Linked DNA regions of Homo sapiens. The protein of the gene in region 2 purifies or fractionates together with the protein of the main gene of each other region. This does not show direct contact. Each region holds a gene or a part of one and is shown on either strand. Other genes may lie near its edges.

The links. Proteins that work in one complex are often made in the same cells at the same time.
Region 1: the proteins of KIF5C (region 2) and ANKRD27 purify together in Homo sapiens (co-immunoprecipitation; one study listed by IntAct). This does not show direct contact.

What each region holds. Positions count from the first base shown.
Region 1 is NC_000019.10:32,602,181-32,605,680, forward strand, and holds part of ANKRD27 (ankyrin repeat domain-containing protein 27), read right to left. Parts: intron 2,245-3,500; coding exon 2,083-2,244; intron 1-2,082. UniProt on the Homo sapiens protein: May be a guanine exchange factor (GEF) for Rab21, Rab32 and Rab38 and regulate endosome dynamics.
Region 2 is NC_000002.12:149,004,227-149,007,726, forward strand, and holds part of KIF5C (kinesin heavy chain), read left to right. Parts: intron 1-1,166; coding exon 1,167-1,238; intron 1,239-3,500. UniProt on the Homo sapiens protein: Microtubule-associated force-producing protein that may play a role in organelle transport. Has ATPase activity. Involved in synaptic transmission. Mediates dendritic trafficking of mRNAs.

The DNA of each region.
Region 1 (3,500 bases), on a different chromosome or scaffold from region 2:
TATTATTTGTTTTTGATCTAAATGTCAGTATTAGTGTGACTGGGCAGAAAAAGCTCAGAAATAATTACAAATGGAGCTTGGAGGCCATAAAGCCCAGTGGTAAAAGCAGGCCTGCATGGGGAGCCCGGCTCTGCTTTTACCACTGGGTAAAAGCTCTGCCCTCTCTGTGGACTCCACGCTGGGGATTCAACCACTCCATGCAACCAGCTCAACCATAATAAGATCTACTATCATATGCTTATCATGAGGCTGTTGAGGGCCCCCATATAGTAAGTACTCATTGAAACACATTAATTAACTGGGCACGGTGGCTCACGCGTGCAATCCCACCACTTTGGGAGACTGAGGTGGGAGGATTGCTTGAGCCCAGGTGTTCAAGACTAGCCTGGGCAACATAGCAAGGCCCTGTCTCTATTTAAAAATAATAAAAGGCCAGGCGCGATGGCTCACGCCTGTAATCTCAGCACTTTTGAGAGGCCGAGGCGGGTGGATTGCTTGAGCCCAGGCAGTCGAGACCAGCCTGGCCAACATGGCAAAACCCTGTCTCTATTAAAAAAAAATTAGCTGGTCATGGTGGCACACGCCTATAGTCCCAGCTACTTGGGAGGCTGAGGTTGGAGGATCATCTGCGCCCAAAGGTTAAGGCTGCAGTGAGCCAAGATTGCACCATTATACTCCAGCCTGGGCAACAAATTGAGACTCTGTCTCAAAAAATAATAATAATAATAAAATTAAAAATTTTAAAAACCAAAAAAAATTCAACATAATCATTTAAGAAAGTACTAAACTGAGAGTTTAAAATATTTCAATTCTGTCACTGAAAATTAATATAAGGAGGCCAGGCACAGTGGCTCACGTCTGTAATCCCAGCACTTCGGGATGCCAAGGGAGGCGGATCAGTTAGGTCAGGTGTTCAAGACCAGCCTGAGCAATATGGTGAAACCCGTCTCTACAAAAAATACAAAAATTTAGCCAGGTGTGGTGCCACGTGCCTGTAATCCCAGCTACTCAGGAGGCTGAGGCACGAGAATCGCTTGAACCCAGGAGGCAGAGGTTGCAGTGAGCCAAGATCACGCCACAACAGAGCAAGACTCTGTCTTAAGAAACAAAAAATTACTCTAAGGAGCCTGTCCATGGAGTGGATTGATGGTGATGTTAGCTTCTCAGTTGTGTCACTTAACAGCCTACTCGCTGTCTATCTTGGGTAGAAAACAAAAGAAAGACTCAGCAGGAAAACAGGAACAGAAAGAGCTGCCGCTCGCCAGGGGAAAAGGACCCTTCCCCGCCGCTCTCCACGCAAGCATCCACAGCACTGGAGAAGGCAGTAGGCCAATAATCACGATTCCTACAGGACTCAAGGACTTTTACTTTCATTTTTTTGAGATAAAGTCTCTGTCACCCAGGCTGGAGTGCAGTGGCACAATCTCAGCTCACTACAGCCTTGACCTCCTGGGCTCAAGCGATCCTCCCACCTCAGCCTCCTGAGTAGCTGGGACTACAGGCATGCACCCCTATGCTCGGCTGATTTTTTGATTTTTTGTAGAGAGGGGGTCTCACTATGTTGCCCAGGCTGGTCATGAGCTCCTGCGCTCAAGTGATCCTCCTTCCTTGGCCTCCCAAAGTGCTGGGATTACAGGCATGAGCCACTGTGCCTGGCCTCAAGGAGTTTTAAATCCACCAACAAAACAAACCTTCTCCATCGTGCTGCTAAGACAACGGCTGTGTTCACACTGTGAGGATGGTGACACCAGAACATCATGACTTGCTCCTTCCTGAGTGCCTGACTCTATGTAACTACCGGACCACAGCCCTACTGCTAGCTGAGGGGGGGGCCCCTCCACTCAGGCCTTTGAAAACCACCTGTGAAAAGAATGATTCCTGGTTCCCAGAGCACCACCTCTGACCAGGAGACTGAGGACCAGCCATCTACCCACGCTGTGGACTTCTGGCACACCAACTACGCCCAGCCCGGCGATGCCAAGGGCCAGGTGTTGCTATTTTAGATCCAGCTTAAACAAAGGGATCCAGAGGGAGCTGTGAGGAGCTCAGGATTCCCTCGGCTCTTCGACCCTCTCCACCTACCTGTTCAGCACAGTCTACAGCCGTGCGCTGCCGCTTGTTCAGCACCTGAACTGACGCTCCGTGGAGCAGAAGCAGCTCTACCACGAAGACGTGCTTTTCAATCACAGCCTCGTGCAGCGCTGTGTTGCCCTTATTGTTAGAAGCGTTAATGGAGGCCCCGTGCTGGAAAGAGAAACCACACGATCAAAAGGAACGCTACGAAACGTCAGCATGGAATCTGGCTGTGGGTATACAGGTATTCGCTATAAAACACATTGTTTTTTTTATGTCTGAAAGTTTCCTTAAAATTTGGGGAGGAAAAGTAATACTGAGAAAAAAAGATTTATAGACAAAGAGTTCGCTGCAGCATTTATCCTAATAGCAGAGAAAACAGAAGCCACTTAAATGTACAGAGCAGAAACAGGTTCAAAAAAATCACTATGGTATATCCATAGTTATGCAACCATTAAAAATCAAAGTTTGAGTAAATAAGTTTCTACATTAAATAACATTAAGACAGAAAACAATACTTGGGGCCAGGCACAGTGGCCCATGCCTATAATCCCAGCACTTTGGGAGGCAGAGGCAGGTGGATCACCTGAGGTCAGGAGTTCAAGACCAGCCTGGCCAACATAGTGAAATCCCATCTCTACTAAAAAAAAACACCAAAAAACAAAAAAATTAGCTGGGCATGGTGGTGGGCGCCTGTAGTTCCAGCTATTCGGGAGGCTGAGGCAGGAGAATCGCTTGAACCCCGGAGGCAGAGGTTGCAGTGAGCTGAGAGTAAGCCACTGCATTCCTAGGTGACAGAGCGAGACTCCATCTCGGAAAAAGAGAAAACAATACTTGGCGAGGCCCCGTGGCTTACACCCGTAATCCAGCACTTTAGGAGGCCAGTGCAAGAGGATCGTTGGAGCTCAGGAGTTTGAGACCAGCCTGGGCAACATAGTGAGACCCCCATCTCTACTAAAAACAAACAGCAAAAACTAGCCAGGTGCAGTGGTATGTATCTGTAGTCCCAGTTAGCTGGGAGGCTGAGGCACCTGAGCCTGGGAGACTGAGGCTGCAGTGAGCTGTGAGGGTGCCATTGCATTCCAGCCTGGGCCACAGAGCAAGACCTTGTCTCAAAAAAAAATTAATAAATAACACTGAAACTATACACATTTGTCAAAAGTCCACCATAATGAGTTTCCCTTGAGTAGCACAGTCATGGACAGGTTGGTTTTTCCCTACTTCTTTAAGAAATTCTAATGCATTCACATAACCTTTTTCAAGAGCAGCAGGGACAGAGGCGGCCACTCAGCCCATGCTCAGGTAACAGCGTGACACATTCCCGGTCGGTGAGGTGAGACCCAAACCCTTGGCAAAAGCAGCGTCGGAGCCCTTGAGACCGCATCCCAGATGCTGGGGCACCATCTGTTCCCATCGGAGAACCCCGT
Region 2 (3,500 bases):
AACCTTTATTGCAAGAAACTTAGTGTTTCCGTAGCTTTATAGTCTGTTTCTTCCTTTTAGATGTGAGCGTGTGTGAGTTGCATCCCTTGAAATTCTGTGTTAAAGTAGGTCAATTTAGACAAAGTTTGCATGCAGAATTTAGCTCTCTCCTCTTCCTCTATAGGAAAATATTTTGCAAGGAACTGATCATATTTCCTATGGTAAATACATGGAGACTTGAGCAGACAGAAATGTTTGATCTTCTGATCTTGTTAACAAAGATCACCAGATTTGGCTCAGGCTCTTGTCTCAGTAATCTAATTCCTAAGGTTTCATTTGTAGAAAATAATCCAAAATGAAGGGAAAAAATGCCCCCAAGATGACAGTGAAAGTTTTAACAACAACAATAAAAGGAAGCAATACAATCCTAATGAAAAAATGGCTTTTATGTTATGAAATATGCATCAATAAATTCATACTAGTCATCTTTATTGGGCACTTAATATGTGCCAGAAAATGTTCTAAGAACATTATAAGGTTCATCTCATTTGATCTTGACAGCAATGATAAGGCAACCACTGTTTTTATTCTCATGTTACCAATAAGAAAACTGAGGCACAGAAAGGTTAGATAACTTGCCCAGGGCCACCCAGGAGGAAAGTCCATGAAATGCCTCATCCGTAAGCTCAGTGACTTAAAACAAGCAAGTGTGTGGACTTGCGTCTGAAGCAGGTGTGGAGACAGGAAAAATGTGAGTCAGTTACGGTGAGATATTGTGGCTAACTTTTCATTTCAGCTTGTTGGTATTACATTGTAACATTTACATAATAAAAAAAAGAAAAAAGGAATTCACCCTGATACAACATAGCCCAGTAGGAATTTTTGTGAGGAAACCTTTGAATTTTTGTGGGTGAGGAAATGTGTGGTTCCACTGTGAGCAGATGGGCAGGCTTTGTTCTGGTTTACAATTTGTGGTCTGGGTTCTCAGGCTCTGCACCTCAAGGTGCTCCAGTAATGACACTAGGTCCAGGGGTGGGCATGGTCAGGGTGGGGGTGTCACAGGGAAGGGGGTGCACCAGCGGCGTCCATGGCAGGCTTGGGAAGTGTCGGGGGAATGATCTGGTGCCAAATGTGTCATAAATTCAGTGAATTGCTGCACTTAAGTGGCCTTTAAAAATCTCTTCCAGTCTAGAGAATTGCAGACACTGCACAACCTTCGGAAACTCTTTGTCCAGGATCTGACCACCCGAGTTAAAAAAGTGAGTTCTCTTTGTCTGAATGGGACTGAGAAGAAAATCAAAGATGGCAGGGAAGAATCATTTTCAGTTGAAATATCACTTGCTTAAGTCGGGGCTGGTTATGCTTAAAAATTAATTACTGCACACCAGAGAATGTTATTAAAAGAATGTGCTGGAGGCAAAAAATACTTGGTAACATTTTCCCATCTGATTTTTCCTTCTTGGTAAAAGGAAGTCAGAATACTTTCTCTGGCCTTCATTTCAAATGAACGCATATTTTTCTGGCCCCCACTGTGTGAGGGCAACTGCTCTTGACACAGAAACATTTAGAGCAGTCATTTCAGAAAGCATTGCCCAGAAGCCTGGAGAAGTCGGACAGAGAGAGCCTCTTATTTGTTTGTTAAAAGGCCATTAGGGGCTAGGTCAGAGTTTATAAAGCACGTCAACATCCAGTATTTTATTTGCTTTTCCCAGCAACCATGTAAGTGGTGCTTAGTGTTCCTGTTTCTGCAGATGTGGAGATAGGCTCAGATGTTAAATAACTTACCCAATATTGCACTGGTGGGAAGAGCCAGAGATAGGTCTGGAACCCAGGCCTGCGGGGTCTCTGGATCTGAGCTTCTTCCATCCTCGTGCTACAGCAGCAGTCTGGAGACACTCCATAATGGTGACTCCCCCAAACAGCTTGCAGAGGTTTAAGGAAGGAGTCTGTTTAAGAAAAGTGGGTGCATATGTGTGTAAATGTGTGTGCATATTTGAGTGTGTGTACGTGTGTGTGTGAATGTGTGTCAGTGTGAAGGAGCCAAGGGAAAGAGGTCAAATGTCTTACAAAGATAGAGTCGGGTCTGAGAGGGAGAGGGTTAATAGTGTAGATGGATGTATTAGATAGGCTTGCTAAGGAGGAGGGACACAAATTCCTAGAAGGGAGGAGTGGAGAAGTCAAGTTGGAAGGATCGGCAGGGAAATACATGCGGGTGGAAAGAAGTCACATTTGATGACTTGGGTCTTCTTGGTTTATGTGAAGGCTCAGTCCTTGGTGGGGAAGTAGGGAAGAGAATGGGAAACCCAAGGAGACTAGACATGGTTCAGGCTGCCAAGGTAGGGGATGTGCTATGGAAGAGTAGAAGGATTGCTGAGCAGTGGTGTTGGTGTTGAGTTAGAAGCATGGGCTTGGCGTGGCCCCTGACAGCATGGTTTAAGTGAGTTTCGAATCCTGGAAATGAAAATAAAGAAGGCAGAAAATGATGGGCAATTTCAAGGCCTGCATGGCAATGGCTAGGCGATTAGGTAGTAAGCACAGACCAAAACACAAATGACCATGGGGGCCTGGCCCTGGCAGGAGAGTGAAGCCAGAGCAAAGGTGATGGACAGGGAGGCTAGAGAGGGGAGGGCACCTGGCCAGAGGTTATGACATGGACTGAAAAGGTTCAGTCCGAGGAAGGAGGTGGAAGCCATGACCATACATGGGAGGCTGTGGTCCTAGGGAGGGTTAGGAGCTTGAGATCAGACTTCCAGATTTCATGATAGAAAACTCCCTAGGAAAGCCCTGCTTTTAGACCAGTGTTTTTCTGCCGGTGGTTCTCTGGCCATCAGCCTCAGCATCACCTAGGAAACTGTTTAGATATGCAAATTCTCATACCCCACCCCAGGTCCACTGAATCAGAGACTAGGGATGGGGCGTGGCAATCTAAGTCTCAACAAACCCTCCCCTGGAGAGCCCAGTGCTAAGGCTCAAATTTGGGGAGCTCAGTTTTAGACTGAAGAGCTGCAGGTTTGAGATGCTCATGTAGCCATTACCTTTGAGAAAAAGGATGATGATCTCTTCTATAATCAGACAGAGCAAACCTGCTTTTCCACCTTGGAACACTGGGATGTGTTAGGACCTGTACTTTCCAATTTATCTGTGCCACTCGGCTTGCCAGGAGTGCAGTGTTTTGCCAATTTCAAGATCTGATAAATTTCAAGAATTTACCCAGCACCCGGATGCTATGATTAATTTGAGCCTGGTTCATTAATTAATTTTATAGATTTGGAAGCTGAAGGGACAAGCAGAGGCCATTAAGACTTCCCAGTGGGACCATAGACACTTGCTTACAAGTTTGGTGACTTGTTGTCCCACCATGATGGCTGAAATCAAATTTAGGTCCTGGGTTTATGTTTTTGCAGTTGTTGTTTCTTAATGAGTTTTGGAATGCTTTCTTTTGAAAAGAAGTCTCTATTTACTACATGAAAGGCAGATGTATATTTTACTGAAGATAAATCATCTACAACTTTCAAAAGCAG